2 separate regions of the Homo sapiens genome follow, and region 1 is linked to region 2. The links come from fine-mapping of genetic effects on gene expression. Tissue or cell type: whole blood. Region 2 holds a variant in brackets; the other region holds the start of a gene. All regions are shown on one strand. Distances are between the middles of the regions.

Region 1 (8,473 bases), 35 kb after region 2:
CTCAGATGCTAAATATAACAAAATACCTTCTGACTTTTATAAATAAACATGCTCCAGATTATTTTGATACTAATGATTTTCTATTTACAAGACAGTTTTGCCACAGCAGTTAAGCAACTGTAACATTTTGAGGAATCTTTCAAGTTTACTCCAGAGCTTTTTTTTTTTTTTTTTTTAAGACAGAGTCTTGCTCTGTCGCCCAGGCTGGCGTGCAGTGGCGCCATCTCGGCTCACTGCAAGCTCCGCCTCCCAGGTTCACGCCATTCTCCTGCCTCTCAGCCTTCCGAGTAGCTGGGACTACAGGCGCCCACCACCACGCCCGGCTAATTTTTTGTATTTTTAGTAGAGATGGGGTTTCACCATGTTAGCCAGGATGGTCTCGATCTCCTAACCTCGTGATCCACCCGCCTCGTCCTCCCAAAGTGCTGGGATTACAGGCGTGAGCTACCACGCCCAGCCTCCAGAGCTTTTCTTTTCTTTTAAGACGTTGTTTGGCTCTTGTTGCCCAGGCTGGATGGAGTGCAACGGCGCAATCTCGGCTCACCGGAACCTCTGCCTCCCAAGTTCAAGCGATTCTCCTGCCTCAGCCTCCTGAGTAGCTGGGATTACAGGCATGCACCACCACGCCCGGCTAATTTTGTATTTTTAGTAGAGACGGGGTTTCTACTAAAACCCCGTTGGTCAGGCTGGTCTCGAACTCCTGACCTCAGGTGATCTGCCCACCTCAGCCTCCCAAAGTGCTGGGATTACAGGCGTGAGCCACCGCGCCCAGCCTATTCCAGAGCTTTTAAAGCACTGACTTGAAAATTGTTCACTGGATTCTTCTACTATGAAATTAAAAAGTTCTTGTTTCATAATGCATTTCCTTAAAATTTATTATTTCTAATTTCCTTGGGTTCTAACACAAGAATATTGGCAAAGCCAAAGTCATGGAAGTAGGTGTTTCCCAAACTATGAAACAGAATAAATCAGGATTTTTTAAAAGTTTACTATGGGCCGGGCACGGTGGCTCACACCTGTAATCCCAGCACTTTGGGAGGCCAAAGTGGGTAGATCACCTGAGGTCAGGAGTTCGAGACCAACCTGGCCAACATGGTGAAACCTCGTCTCTACTAAAAACACAAAAAAATTAGCCAGTCGTGATGGCAGGCACCTGTAATCCCAGGTACTGGGGAAGCTAAGGCAGGAGAATTGCTTGAACACGGGAGGTGGAGGTTGCAGTGAGCCGAGATTGTGCCATTGCACTCCAGCCTGGGCAACAAGAGCGAAACTCTGTCTCAAAAAAAAACAAAAAAACAAACCAACAAACAAAAGTTTACTATATACATTCAAAGACAAATAATAGATTTCACAGTTTTTAAAATGTTCCCTTATTAAAAATCCCAAACATGGCCAGGTGTGGTGGCTCACGTCTGTAGTCTCAGCACTTTGGGAGACCGAGGCGGGCAGATCACGAAGTCAGGAGTTCAAGACCAGCCTGGCCAATACAGTGAAACCCCATCTCTACTAAAAATACAAAAAAAAAAACGCCAGGTACAGTGGCTCATGCCTATAATCCCAGCACTTTGGGAAGCTGAGGCGGGAGGATCACCTAAGGTTGGGAGTTTGAGGCCAGCCTGACCAACATTGAGAAGCCGTGCCTCTACTAAAAATACAACATTAGCCGGGCATGGTAGCACACGCCTGCAGTCCCAGCTACTCGGGCGGCTGAGGCAGGAGAATTGCTTGAACCTGGGAGGTAGAGGTTGCGATGAGCCAACATCATGCCATTGCACTCCAGCCTGGGCAAAAGAGCGAAACTCCCTCTCAAAAAAAAAAAAAAAAATTAGCCGAGCGTGGTGGCGGATGCCTATAGTCCCAGCTACTCAGGAGGCTGAGGCAGGAGACTAGCTTGAACCTGGGAGGCAGAGGTTGCAGTGAGCTGAGATCGTGCCACTGCACTCCAGCCTGGGCGACAGAGAGAGACTCCGTCTAAAAAAATAATAATAATAAAATCCCATACATGACAATTCAGTGACAATTGAGAAGTTCTGAATAATGGGGTGAGGAACTGATTGTCTTGTTCTCGGTAATGAACATCAGGCTTTTAACAGAGTGCATAGCAGCTGTCTTTTAGGAAACAACACGCCACAAGTGGACCTCATGACCCCAGGCATTCTGTCACTGTATAAGTGATATAAGTGCACCTCTAGCTGGACAGCTCCTCAGGTCCTCCCAGTCTAAAGTACAGGATGTGAAAGTAAGACGGTTCAACTCGCACTTTATCTCTGGGGGATGGATCCAACGAGTCCGGGAAGGAGGGTAGAATCTTTATGTTGCATCTCATAATCCCAAGGTTGTTTTTTGACATTCTAATTATTGTACATAGTTAGCTTTTCAAAAACATGGCCCACCAGCTATCATGCCTTCTTTCTTCTCTCTCTCCTCACACCTTCTAGGTCCACAAAGTCCCACTAACATCAAGCATGATCTCACCCTTAAACAGAGCTACAGAGCCTCCAAACATCTGCATACTCACCAACTAGTAGTACAAGGTAAGTCAGAATTCTTTCAGGCTGAACCAGGATAGCCAAATGAAAAATTAGAGACTTCAAAGTATCTTGTCTCTGCAAGCGACTGCTAAATCCTCAGCCCCAGCCCTAAATGTTCTCCAAAATATGTTTTTGTTTTTGTTTTTTGAGACAGGGTCTCAAACTCCTGGGCTCAAGCGATCCTCCTGCCTCAGCCTCCCTAGAAGCTAGGATTACAGGCGAGCAGCACTGTGCCTGGCCAAAATATATGTTCTAAAAATCGGTAGGAACAGTTCTCTTTGGATAGTCCACTGTCAACTGCAATAACACGAAAGTTGTTTAAAAAAAACCCATGATCTCATTATCTTTCACCAAAAACATTCCTCCTAGTGTAACTGCTCTGTTGACATCCTGTCACCAAATCTTGTGCTTTCTTCCTTCTGGGTGTCTCCCTAATGTCCGTTGCGTCCAGTCATCAAAAAGTTACAGGCTGCATTAGGGGAAGCCGTGAGCCTGGTGTAAGGCAACAGGGATTGGTGGGAACCGATGATCCTCAGCTCCAGCCAACCATTGAGCAGGTGACAAAGTGATGGTGGACCCTCCAATTATCTAAGACAGGCAAGAAATTTAGATTGTTAGGAGAAACTTTCTGATTTTTAAGGCAATATGTGGGCCAAAGAAAACATCTACAGGTCACTCATGGGCAATCCCGAGTGAACCAGGCTCCCTCAGTCTGGTCCAGGCTCCCTCAGTCCCTTCTACACATCACTGTCTGATCAGTTTCCCAAACACAGGGCTCCTGATCACTGCTATCTCGGAAAGCACAACTACTGCTACAAAGTCCTATACTGCCATTCAACCTCCACAGTAATAAAACCAATCCCTACCTTCCTTAACTCCCCTACACAGATCTTTCACTTCACCCAAAGGAGTCCACTCCCCCACCCGTCACCCCCGCCACTGTCCCCGCCAAGATGGCCTCCTTCCTACTCTCCTCCCCTACCCACCAGAGCCCACACGGTGCAGGAAACAACCCATCAACCGGGAGGACGCCCTCCAACACCTGCTGATGACGGACTGGCTCACTGGGTAACACCCCTTTGCTCAAAGCCGATGATTTCATGCCCAAGAAGGGATTTACATCTCCCAGGAGGCAAATGCTATGGCCTTGTCCTGATTCCCCCACCCCCCAAAATAATAACATTGTAAAAGGGAACGGAGAGCCTAAGTTGCGCTCAGAGGAGCCGCCTCCCTAAGAAGGCTCTGCATATCTTCACCTCCAGGAAGGCCTCACGGAGTTGGGGGAGAGGGGAGTCCCCGCAGCCAGCCCAGCGAGGCAGGAGGCCGTGCGCCACTCCCGAGAAGCTCCTTCCTGCGCCCCGGGGGAGCCACTTCAGTCAGACCCTGAGCCGGGACCCCGACCCGCCGACCCCTGACGCGCGCGCCGCGAAGGCCGGGCACCCGAGGGCCCTTCGCGCTACCCGGGCCCGGGGCCGCCGTCGGCTGCGACAAAGGGTCAGAGAACAAGACGACCCCTCTGCGCGCGTCCCCCGCAGGCCTCCCGGATGCGCCGCTGTCCCGGCCGCGCCCACCCCGACGCTGCCGCTACCTTGTCCTCGGGTGGCGCAACCGGCTCATGGGCCACCCTCTGCCTCAGCTCTGTCATCCTGGGAAAATCGGCCCGACGTCGCCGCGAGCTAGCAGCGAAGCCGCCGGAGCAGGCAGCTCGGCGCGGGCACGCGCGGACTCCCACGGCCGGCCCCGCCCCGCCCGGGAGGCGCGCGGCTCTGAGCGGCTCACAGTTCCCTTAGCAGCCCAGCAGCCAGCCCTGGAGCTCGGCCCCACCCAGTGCCGTCACCGCCCTTTCACCCGGGCCGAGCGGGGTCAGCCTTCCCTAGCCCCGACCCGAGAGCTCCCTCTCCCGGGAGCAGGGCTCGGAGCGAGTGCGCACGCGCAGCGCCACCATCACGGTCCGGAATATCCACCAATGGCGCAAATACGCCAGGGAGGCAGGGCGACGGGGGCGGGGCGGGGCGGAGCAGAGTCGAGAGGCGCGCATTGGACGGCAGCGTCAGGGGCGGGAAAAGGCGTGCGTTTCAGTGTGCGATTAGCCAATGGGAGCTCCCGCTTAACCGCGGATGGCCGGAGCTGGCGCCCTGGTTCTGGAGGTAACCGGTTACTGAGGGCGAGAAGCGCCACCCGGAGGCTCTAGCCTGACAAATGCTTGCTGACCTGGGCCAGAGCTCTTCCCTTACGCAAGTAAGTAGACGTTATTTAGGTCGAATGGAAAGGCCAGGTGAGCCGACCTGGTTAAGAGCATTTTATCACTTATCACATGATGAGAAATGAAACCCACGCTTCAGTCTGCTTTGCTTTGCCAAGCGGTCGCTAGTACTTGTTAAGCACTAATTGTATACTAGGCACTGAGCTGAGTAATCGCTTTAGTTGGCTTATCTCGTTTAATCCACACATGGCTTGGAAGTGGGTATGATTTGAATTTTACAGTTAAGATCTTCCTCAGTGGTTTGTTTGTTTGTTCGTTTGTTTGTTTGTTTTGTGACGGAGTCTCGCTCTGTCGCCCAGGCTGGAGTGCAGTGGCATGATCTCGACTCACTGCAACCTCTGCCTCCCGGGCGCAAACAATTCCAAGGTGCGCGCCACCACGCCCGGCTAACTTTTGTATTTTTAGTAGAGACGGGGTTTCACCATATTGGTCAGGCTGGTCTCGAACTCCTGACCTCAGGTGATCCGTCCGCCTCCGCCTTCCAAAGTGCTGGGATTACAGGCGTGAGCCACCGAGCCTGGCCCTTCCTCAGTTTTTCAAATTTGTCTTCTGGACTATGGAAAGACCTTTTTTGGGACAGAAGTGCTGTCTACTTTGTTTACTGTGCATCCTCTATGTCTTTGACACATCCATTGTAAGTACTTGTTGGATGGATTTAAAACTTTTAAAAGGACCTTAGCCAAGGTCTCCCAGCTAGAAAGTGCCTAGTAAGAATTAGAACACAAACAGGTTTGTTACCAGCCCACACTCTAACCACCATACTATACTGCCTGCCTGCATTTATTAATACTTGTGTTGCTCCAGCATTGCCTTTGGTGTTTCCTGTTCTTTCTATTCACTGCCCTGTAAGTGATGTAAAACACATATAACACTGCGTCCCCAACTTAAGCATACTGTAATCTCACAATGAGACACTTGCACACAAAAGAATTGCAATTTCGTTTTTTAAAAAAATATAATTTTACATTTTTCTTCTTTTCAATTTTTAAATTTTAATTAATTTATTTCTCCTTTTTTTAGAGACAGGGTCTCACTATGTTGCCCAGACTGGTCTTGAACTCCTGGGTTCAAGAGATCCTCCCGCCTAGGTCTCCCAAAGTGCTGGGATTACAGGCATGAGCTACCATGCCTGGCTAAAATTTCCTATTGGTAATTTTGACCTGAGCTGTGAGTTTTGGGGCAGGTAGTGAGAATTCTGAAAACAGCATTATATATTCCTGATTTCTATATGAGTATATGCCCGAGTAGCTTGGACTACAGGTGTGCAGCACCACACCCAGCTAACTTTTAAATTTTTGTGTAGCGATGAAGTCTCACTTTATTGCTTAGGCTGGTCTTAAACTCCTGGGCTCGAGCAATCCTCCCACATAGGCCTCCTAAAGTTCTGGGATTACAGGCATGAGCCACAGCACTCGAGCAAGATGATCTTCTAAGACAGGTGAAGATGTTAGTGTCTAGAACTTCACCTTCAGGGGCACGTAGGTATGAAAGGTCATATCTAAGTGAGTGTCATGTCAGTCCTTCTAGAAACTCAGCTGCTCCTTTTCAAATCCAGCCTAATAAAAGGAGGCTTGGAGAATCAATGCACATAAGTCAGAATTATAGAATGCACAGCATGATTACTAGGATGGATAACATGTGGTCTGAACAAACTTCTCATCCATTACACTCAGCCCTCTCAGGTTAATGGAACTCAGATCAAGTATATTCCTGAAGTCAGTACTGTGTGACGAACAGGGGTCTGGTGGAAGTGATGCTAATAGGGCTTTAGGCCAGCTTTAGAGCCCTTCTCTCTCTCTCTTTTCGTTTTTTGTTTTCTTTTTGTTTGTTTTTTGTTTTTTTTTTTTAGACAGTTTCCCTCTTGTTGCTCAGGCTGGAGTGCAATGGTGTGATCTCGGCTCACTGCAACCTCCGCCTCCCAGGTTCAAGCAATTCTCCTGTCTCAGCCTCCCGAGTAGCTGGGACTACAGGCGCCCGCCACCACAGCTGGCTAATTTTTGTATTTTTAGTAGAGACAGGGGTTTTAGGTCAGGCTGGTTTTGAATTCTTGACCTCAGGTGATCCGCCCACCTGGGCCTCCCAAAGTGCTGGGATTACAGGCATCAGCCACTGCACCTGGCTCAAGAAACATTCTTAAGCATGCTTGATCTTGGTAAATGCCCCTGATTTCTTCTGTAGGAAAAAACCCTAGAGATCGAATTTCTGTGTCAAAGAATAAGTAAAATTCTAAGGCTTTTGATACACATTTCTAAGTTTCCACCAGAAAAATTATACCAATGTATACTCCCACTTGCAATGTATTTAAGTGCCTACTTCCTTGAATCCTTCCTAACACACCAGGTGTTAACATGATTTTTATTAATTTGGTAGGTTAAAATTCTGTCTCCATTGAATTTACATTTCTTTGCTTATTAATGTGGCTAACAAACTTCACGTTTATGAAGACTAGGACTGGACAGTGGAGGCCAGATACCTCTGGCTTTTTGTTTAGATGAATAAATTTTCTATTTCTCTTAATCCATTCAAGTTGAGTTCTCTGTCACTGAAACCTAAACTATACTAACCAATATAATCCTTTGAGGCATACTGAAGTCTTAAAACTTGTATGGTTATTCATTATGTTTTATGGGTTTTTTTCTTATGTTTGGAAGCCCATAGGAAGATCTCATAAATATTTACCAAAATATTTTTCCATTTCTTATTGGGTCAAGATTTGAATTTGAATTCTTTATCTAGAATTTAGTGAATAATTATTAGGAAAAGTCTTTTTTTTTTTTTTTGAGATGGAGGTTTGCTCTGTCACCCAGGCTGGAGTACAGTGGCGCAATCTTGGTTCACTGCAACCTCTGCCTCCCGGGTTCAAGCAATTCTCCTGCGTCAGCCTCCCTAGTATCTGGAATTACAGGTGTGCACCACCACGCCCAGCTAATTTTTGTATTTTTAGTAGAGACGGGGTTTCACCATGTTGGCCTGGCTGGTCTCGAACTCCTGACCTCAGATGATCCACCTACCTCAGCCTCCCAAAGTTCTGGGATTACAGGCATGAGCCACTGCGCCCATCCAGAAAAGTCTACAGCTTTTATTCTTTTCTAATAGTTTAACCAATTATCTGATCAAAATTTACTTCATTCTTTCTCCCACTGATCCAATAGTACCTTTACTAGATGTTAGAGTAGCCACTTAAAATGTAAATTGGATCACATCAAAGATCTGCTGTTGACCACATTCCCTTGCACTTTTAGAGAGCCTACAAAGTCCTGCAAGAGCTCACCCCAGCCTCTCTGCAACCTCACCTTGCACCACTCTTGCTTCAGACACATCAGTCTGAGTTCTACATCAAACTTGTCTGAATATATTCCAAGTATGCTGACCTTTATAATCATGCTATTCTCTCAGCCTAGAATGCTTTTTTCCAACTCTCCAAGCAGCTGTCTTCTCTGATAAGATGCTACCTCCTCAGAGAGGCCTTCTCTGACCACAGTCATAGGCATGTTTATGTCCTCATTTCAGTTTAACATAAAATTTACGTAACTGTACACCTCTTTATCATTTGACACTTTTAGGAGGACATCACTTCTGTAATAGAGCAGAAATAAACAGATTGATGTACATGGTGGATCCCCCATGGATAGAGTTTGTCATTTAAAATGTCTTCAAATCTATTACATGTAATTTGGCA
Region 2 (8,473 bases):
CAAAATGGCATACAAGCCCCTTGAGATCAGGGTCTTATCTACTCATCCAGCCTTATCTCTTACAGCCATTCTGAACTAGAGTCAGTTTCTAGAACAGGTTGTACTTTCTTACCTTTAGGACTTTTGCTCCTGTGTTCCTACTTAAACAGTCTGCAAACCACCCTCTACTAAAACCCACTTCTCTTCCAGCAAATTTTCCTTGATCTTTTAAGAGTTCCCTTTCTCTCCAAATCTTCCCCAACTGCCTGTGTGTCCCAGCGGCCCCTGTCCTTCCTTAGGAGTGCTCCCCACCGTGGTTCATGCCTGTAATCCCAAAACTTTGGGAGGCCAAAGTGGGAGGATCGCCTAAGCCTAGGAGATTGAGGCTGCAGTGAGACCTGATCATGCCACTGCATTCCAGCCTAGATGACAGAGCAAGACCCTGTCTCAAAAAAACAAAAAAACAAAAAAAGACGGCTTCCCACACCGCATAGTCTCCGCCTCGAGACCATCATCTCTGTGGGGGAGCCATGTTGACTTCCTCACCACTGTACCCCCAGCACCTGGCCTGGCACCTAGAACCACATCTGCAGAGGCAGCCAGAGCCAATGATGCTGAGAGAATCCAGGGTTTGCTGAAGTGGCAGGTGTAGCTGGGCTACATGTCGCGTAGGCTGACAATTCATTTTTGCACTCAGTAGCACTAGAGGAGGCATTTTAGGGCTGCAGCCAGCTGTCCCACTGTTTATCTCCCCTTCTTCTTAGACATTTGTGGCCAAATGTATCCTAAGCAATACGGGGGTTTCCAAAAAAAGTACAGAATCTGTATGTCTCAGAAAGGATGAGGAAATCCTGTCTGAAATCCAGCTTCTAGGAATGCAAGGCTTTCTAACTCAAATACGTACAGTTGTACTGAGTCCCAACCTCTGCATGACTGCCAGTCTCATACATTAAACCCATAATTTTTGTGACAAGGAATGACCAGGAATCCTTTCTCCCAACACTCTCTCCCACCTTGCCCATTGAAGCCTCCTTCTGGAGTAGATGCATCTGTTTACTAACAGCAAGCATATGACTATAAATATGAAATAGCTGCAGGAAGTACCAACCTCCATCACAAGCCATTACTTAATTCAGAACAGAGACTATCAGAGACAAGAAAACCACTCAGGTCCCCAGGAGGCTCTGCCAACGGCTCTGTTCCGATGACATCACTTGTTTTCCTATTGTCTTCCAGGGTTAGGGGAAAGACACCAAAAATCAGAAGCCCCACTGGAGTCCAACGGGTCCTTCTATTATCAGTTCCTTAGTCGGGCATCTCTATTTAGTATTTAAGGGAAAATGAGTTTTCAGCGCTACTGGGGAAGGAAGGAATTTTTTTTTTTTTTCAGTTTATTAAGATAAAGCTCTCCCAAGGAGGGAGTATGTCTAATACTGCCAAAAGATCTAGTAAGATGGAGAAGAAAAATATATTCGCAATCTCAAAACTGGGCTCAAGTGTGCTCCCCAGACCTCTGTCAGGAAGTAGAACCAGGACAGCTGCTGGGCTCCACATGCGACGAGCCCCTAAATCATAAATCGCCATCTGGTACCTGCTTCACTGTCACTCACCTCACAATAGTGTTTTCTACAAAGATTCCTAGACAAAATAAGTAGACATGAGAGCAAATGTCCCCAGTGTCTCATGCCCCAACCTCCCCTACTCCTGTGGGCAGACAAGCACCCTGGGGCTGTTTACCATATTGGAACATTATATTGTCACTTTTGTAGTATTCCTGGTTTATAACCAACCATCATGGAATCAAGTACCAATCAAATAGACTGTAACTATTCAAGGGAGAAACTAGTATGTTTCTCCCTTGAAGAACATGGAATTAACAGTGTTCTCAATCCCAAATGTGTCATATTAGTTATAGAAGAAATTATGGGGTGGGTGCGGTGGCTCGTGCCTCTAATCCCAGCACTTCAGGAGGCCAAGGTGGGCAATCACCTGAGGTCAGGAGTTCAAGACCAGCCTGGCCGACATGGTGAAACTCCGTCTCTACTAAAAACACAAAAATTATCCAGGCGTGGTGGTGGGCACCTGTAATCCCAGCTACTTGGGAGGCTGAGGCAAGAGAACTGCTTGAACCTGGGAGGTAGAGGCTGCAGTGAGCCGAGTTTGCACCACTGCTTTCCAGCCTGGGCGACAGAGCTAGACTCTGCTTCAAAAAAAAAAAAAAAAAGAAAGAAAGAAATTATGAAAGCCACAATGCTAAATAGTTTCTTTCTCTTTTTGATAAATCACTAAGGATACCTGGGGAAAAAATTAAATTGAAAATGAGAAAGTCTTTGAAGAAACATTCCTAATGGCCAACGATAGGACAATTTGAGCATTAAAATAATAAACAAAAAGTGATTTAAACACAAGTATATGAAAATTTATGAGTTCATAATGATAACTGTAAGAAACTACTGGCCAGGCGCAGTGGCTCACGCCTATAATCCTAGCACTTTGGGAGGCCGAGGCGGGTGGATCACCTGAGGTTGGGAGTTCGAGACCAGCCTGACCAACAGGGAGAAACCCTGTCTCTACTAAAAACACAAAATTAGCAGGGAGTGGTGGCCCATGCCTGTACTCCCAGATACTCAGGAGGCTGAGGCAGGAGAATCGATTGAATCCGGGAGGTGGAGGTTATGGTGAGCTGAGATGGAGCCATTGCACTTCAGCCTGGGCAACAAGAGCAAAACTCTGTCTCAAAAAAATAAATAAAAATAAAAACGAAACAAAAAAAACTACTTTGGCCACCTCTGAAGGGTGCTGAAACACCAAATCTTTTTTTGAAAACCAGTAATTAAAAGGAAAGAGCCTCTCTACATTGCCCAGGCTGGTCTCGAACTTCTGGCCTCAAGTGATCCTCACGCTTTGGCCTCCCAAAGTGCTGGGAGAATAAGCATGAGCCACAGTACCTGGCCATCAAATTACTTTCAAATATCCATTACCCCAGCAAAGAAAAGTCAATGTGGCCTCAGTATGATCTCCCTAGGCTCTGGAGACTAAAGTGCATCTTCAAACATAAGTAAATAAAACAACCTCCATGCTGCCAAATCAGACAGATTCCCCTGCCTTCATCTTATCATATATCTTGGCAATGTCAGATCTAGTTGACCATTTCCTCCTTGAAACATTCTCCTCTCAGCTACCTCCATACCATACTTATCAGGTTCTCACTCTACCTGACTGGCTGCTCTTTCTCAGTCTCCTGTGACTTTGAAGTCTACCTGACTTCAAAATGTTGAATGGGCCCTGGGCTCAGTTCTGGACCTACCACACTCTCTCCCTAGGTATCATCATCCAGCCCCTTGGCTTTAATTACCAATTCCATGCCAATGACCCCAACATTTGTATCTCCAACCCCAACTTCTCCCCCAAGCTTCAGATTCATATTTCCAACCACTTACTGACATCTCCACGAGAAAGTTCTTACAGGCATCTCAAAAGTAACACATCTAAACAGAACACTTTTGACATTGTCCGTAAAACTACTGATCCTGAAGTCTTGCCTAGTCAATCAGTTGACAGCATGCGAGTCTATATACCCTGCATAAGCCAGAAACCTGAGAGGTAGCGATTGAATACCCCTTAACCAAAATGCTTGAGACCGGAAGTGTTTTGCATTTCAGAGTTCTTTTCAGAATTTGGAATATTTGCATTATACTTACTGGCTGAGCATCCCTAATCAGAAAATCCTAAATTCAAAATGCTCCAATGAGCATTTCCTTTGAGCATCACATTGGCACTCAAAAAGTTTCAGATTTTGAAAATTTCAAATTTTTGATTTTGGGATGTTCGACCCTTAATTCTTATCTCCCTATCTTCCCCCAGGTACTGGACACTGCAGTTGGTTCCCTCCTAAAAATCCATAAACTATTTCATGGTATACAGCAGCTTGTACAGTCTACTTATTTTTAATTCTGCCCCTCTGCCACAGTGATAGGTTCACGAACAGGCATTTACCCCAGCCTAAGGCAATGTGCACCTTGACTGTTTTGGAGTAGGCACTTGACCCAAGATGGTACAAGCAGTTCAAACAGCAAAAATAGCTAATGGCATTTTAGGCTATATTAACACAGGCATGGTCTGGTTCTAGTTAGCGTTAGTCAAACTTTACTTAGAGGCCAAGTACGTCCAATAGAGTGGTTAAAACAGTAAGGAGACAAAAAAGAGCAAGACGATAAAATGAACAGATGAAGAAACCAGAAGGGCTAGGCCTGGAGACAACTGGGAAATGAGCATACTCTACTGCAGTACTGAAAAGGAGAAACTGGTTTTATGTCCCTAACAAGGAAAAATTATTAGGTAAATTACGGTAAATCAACTTTCTGTGCAGCTATTAACAAGACTACTATAAACACCGTGCAGCAACATGAAAAAGGCAGAATATAAAACTATGTCTATACTGGATTATACTACTTACACAAAGTATGTGTCAGTTATCAATGGATTGCCTCTCAATGTATGTGTCAGTTATCAATTGATTGAATCCTTGGGACTCTGCTGGGCTTGGATCAATCCCTTTCAGGTCCACTGCTACCTCCAGGTTTTGTCAGTATAGAACTTTCTGCAATAATGGAAATGTTCTCTCTATACTGTCCAATATGAGAGCCACAGCTGTGTGTGGCTTATTGAACAATTAAAATGTGGCTAGCGAGACTAAGGAAGTGAATTTATGTATTTATTTTTAATTAAATTTAAACTGCCACACACTTCACATCCACTAGAGTGGCTATTTTCAAAAAAGAAAAAAGAAAAACCAAAATAACAAGTACTGGAGAAGATGTGAAAAAACTGAAACCCTTGTGCACTGTTGGTCAGAATGTAAAATAATGCAGCTGCTATAGTAAACAGCCTGGCAGTTC[C/A]TCAAAAAATCAAATATAGAATTACCACATGACTCAGCAATTCCACTTCTGGGTATATACCCAAAAGAACTGAGGGCAGGGACTCAAAGAGATATTTGTACACCCATGTTCATAGCAGCCTTATTCACAATAAACAAAAAAGTAGAAGCAATCCAAGTATCTATCAACAAAGGAATGAACAAAATGTAGTATACATATACAGTGGCATATTATTCAGCCTTAAAAAGGAAGGAAATTCTCACACATGCTACCACATGGATGAACCTTGAGGACATTGTGCTAAGTGAAATAAGCCACACACAAAAGGACAAATATATGATTCCACTTACATGAGGTACCTAGAGTAGTCAAATTCGTAGAGACAGAAAATAGAATGGTGGTTGTCAGGGGCTGGGGGAGTGAGAGGGGAGAGTTGTTTAATGGGTACAGAGTTTCATTTGGGGAAGATGAAAATATTCTGGAATGTTTGTTCTGGTGACAGTTGCAAAACAATGTTAACGTACTCAATGCCATAGAACCATACACTTGAAAATGGTTAAAATTATCAATTTTATGATATATATAATATTTAGCCACAGTAAGAAAAGGTTTAATTGGCCACATGTGGCTAGTGGCTACTATACTGGACAATGCAGACAGTCTAACAGCTGTATCCACCCCAACCTGCAACCAGGAAGAAAACTGCTAAGGCTCCCCAAAACTCTGGTTCCCCTACTACTGTGAGGAGGGGGCTAGAACCCCCAACACCACCTCAGCAACCTACAACTTCTAGTCCTCAACAGCCAGGTGAACAGGATTCTGAACAAGGTTCAACCAGTCAAGGGCAGACCTACCCCTTCAGCAAGCATATGAAGTGTTAAGTAGTTGCAGGGCTAAGAAAAGACCTAAGCAAAGCCATCCTCAGCAGAGATGCCGGCTCTCCCCTGCCTTTCTTTTAAATTTAATTCAGTGGCCAGTTACTACTCTGCCTTTTAATAGCAGCAGCAACAGATGAAACAGTTGTGATTCTCGCAGCATCAAATGGCAGTGGCACAAACAGCTCAGCTTCATCATCATCGGCATATGAGCAGCCAGTCAAAAACTAAAATGAAGAAGGCATATCAACCACTCCAATATTCTGAATCTTGCATTATTTTTTCCTCTTTTTTAAAAACATAAGGGCACTGAATCACAAGGATTCTGAGTTTTTACTTCATTTTTAAAAATGTGTCAGTAATTTATACTGCTAAGATGTACAAACTTTACACAGGTGCACAACCCCATTTTTTTTAAGTAAAAACAGGGTAATTATTTAACAAACTAGGGTTGGTTTGCTTTTTAAACTGCACATAATATATATGGAAATGACCTAAAAATTACTAGAAAAATCTTTCAAAAGAACCCAGTTTGGTATATATTTTGTAGAAAAGGTTTGTGAATAATGTAACAAATACAATTTTTACAAATCTGTTTTGGGGGAAAAGAGGAACAGAACAAAGCAGTTACCATCTGCACAGGCATTATTATTCCTTTGACATCTTGCTAATAGTCTGTTAATGAACATCAAAACACCTAAAATTTTCTTCTGATGCTTTACAAAGATTCCTTACACTTGTTTACATGCAAATCATCCAAAACAAAAAGAAAAAAACTATAATATACTTTTAAATTACTGAACTATAAAATTTTAACATAATTTCATCTTCAAATGAATTTATCAAGACCATTGAGTCATTTTTTGATGCTTCTCTGTTCTACATTATCTGACATAAAATTTATGTCACACACTGGGGCCTGTTGTGGGGTGGGGGGAGGGGGAGGGAAAGCATTAGGAGAAATACCTAATGTAAATGACGAGTTAATGGGTGCAGCACACCAACATGGCACATGTATACATATGTAACAAACCTGCACGTTGTGCACATGTACCCTAGAACTTAAAGTATAATTTAAAATATATATTAAAAAAAAGAAAATGTAACACATTAGATTTCTGATATTAATTTGAAATGAATAACAAAATTTAGTCAAGTTTGTAAAGGTCTTAAATGTTTGATAAAACTTTACTACAAAAAAAAAATTCAATCTGATTTTCAAAGCGGCTCGCTTATCCTTCTGTTCCATCGCAAAGACACATGGGTTAAAGCAAGGTTTTCCTAACATCAAGTGCCTCACCCTCACCTGTGCTGAGATAACAGCGTGAAGGAGTCTCAATTCATCTTCACTGTCAGATTTAAATTTTGTTTGGAGAACCCCTAACGTATCAGCAGAGAACACAGTTTGCAAATCACTGCAAAACACCACCATATATCTCTGACAAATGAGTTATTACTACTTGAGGATGCACCTTGTAAGATACAACGATCACCCAGTATTAAATTCCTACTGTGTCCCCAAACCGCTAGCTGCTCAGAAATTGGCTGTGTTCTCATTCTGTCACTCCAACCAGAAACTGGGGTACATAGTGGTGGCTCTGTTTGTACATATCAAACCAAGATTCACAAGCTTTACTGTTAATAGAAAAGTCTACTTATAGTCTTATATCCTGAAAATATGTCATTTGACAACCTGGAGACCAGAGTCAAACAGAATCCATTATAATCTGGAAACAAGTGAAAAATCTTGGTGAGATTTTACAGGGTTGTTTAAAAAATGATGACCTAGGCCAGGCCCAGTGGCTTACACCTACATGTAATCCCAGCACTTTGGGAGGCCAAGGCAGGTAGATCACTTGAGGTCACGTGCTCAAAATCAACCTGGACAACATGGTGAAACCCCGTCTGTACTAAAAATACAAAAAAATTAGCTGGGCGTGGTGGCAGGTGCCTGTAATCCCAGCTACTCAAGAGGCTGAGGCAAGAGAATCACTTGATCTCGAGAGGCAGAAGTTGCAGTGAGCCGAGACTGTGCCATTGCACTCCAGCCTGGGCAACCAAGAGCAAAACTCTGTCTTAAAAAAAAAAAAAAAAAAAAAGACCTAAAGCAGGAGCCAATCTTTTGGCTTCCCTGGCCCACACTGGAAGAAGAATAACTGTCTTGGGCCACATATAAAATACACTAACACTAACGATAGCTGATAAGCTAAAACAAGCAAACAAACAAAAAACAAAAAACTCATAATGTTTTAAGAAAGTTTACGAATTTGTGTTGGGTCGTGGGTCAGACAAGCTTGAACTAAAGGACCTAAAATGATAATCTGTCAGTAACAAGCTCCTTCAGAAAGAAGTGAAATAAGTGCCTGCCACCTACCCCAATCTGAAGTCTTGGCCTACGGTGGTCTGCATATTTATGTCTCCCCAAAATTCATACGCTGAAATCCTAACCCCCATCTCAATGGTATTAGAAGATGGAGCTACTGGAAGGTGATTAGGTCATGAGGCTGAACCCCTCATTAATGGGATTAGCACCCTTATAAAAGAGGTCCCAGAGAAATCCTTCTTCCACCACATAAGGACTCAGTGAGAAGCCCTGGATGAACCAGAAAGCAGCTCCTTACCAGACACTCAATCTGCTGGCGCCATAATCTTGGACTTCCCAGACCCCAAAACAATGAGAAATAAACTTCTGTTGTTTATAAGCCACTGAGCTCATGGTGTTTCATTATAGTAGCCCAAACA

What was found.
Region 1: it holds the start of CDS2, and the variant in region 2 is fine-mapped to the expression of CDS2 in whole blood (TOPMed, PIP above 0.99). The same link has a PIP of 0.9 or more in neutrophils.

What each region holds. Positions count from the first base shown.
Region 1 is chr20:5,122,796-5,131,268 of GRCh38, reverse strand. CDS2 (CDP-diacylglycerol synthase 2) reads right to left here and starts at 4,261. Exons shown (of 13, transcript NM_003818.4): 1 at 4,120-4,261. The coding sequence starts at 4,176. It also overlaps a transcript of PCNA not described here. RefSeq lists enhancers at 3,423-3,512, 4,089-4,590 and a silencer at 3,853-4,772.
Region 2 is chr20:5,157,522-5,165,994 of GRCh38, reverse strand. All of the region lies in intron 1 of CDS2 (CDP-diacylglycerol synthase 2), which reads right to left. Among named protein-coding and RNA genes, the nearest start is that of CDS2, 35 kb to the right of the region's middle. The variant C/A (reference allele first, on the strand shown) is at 4,878.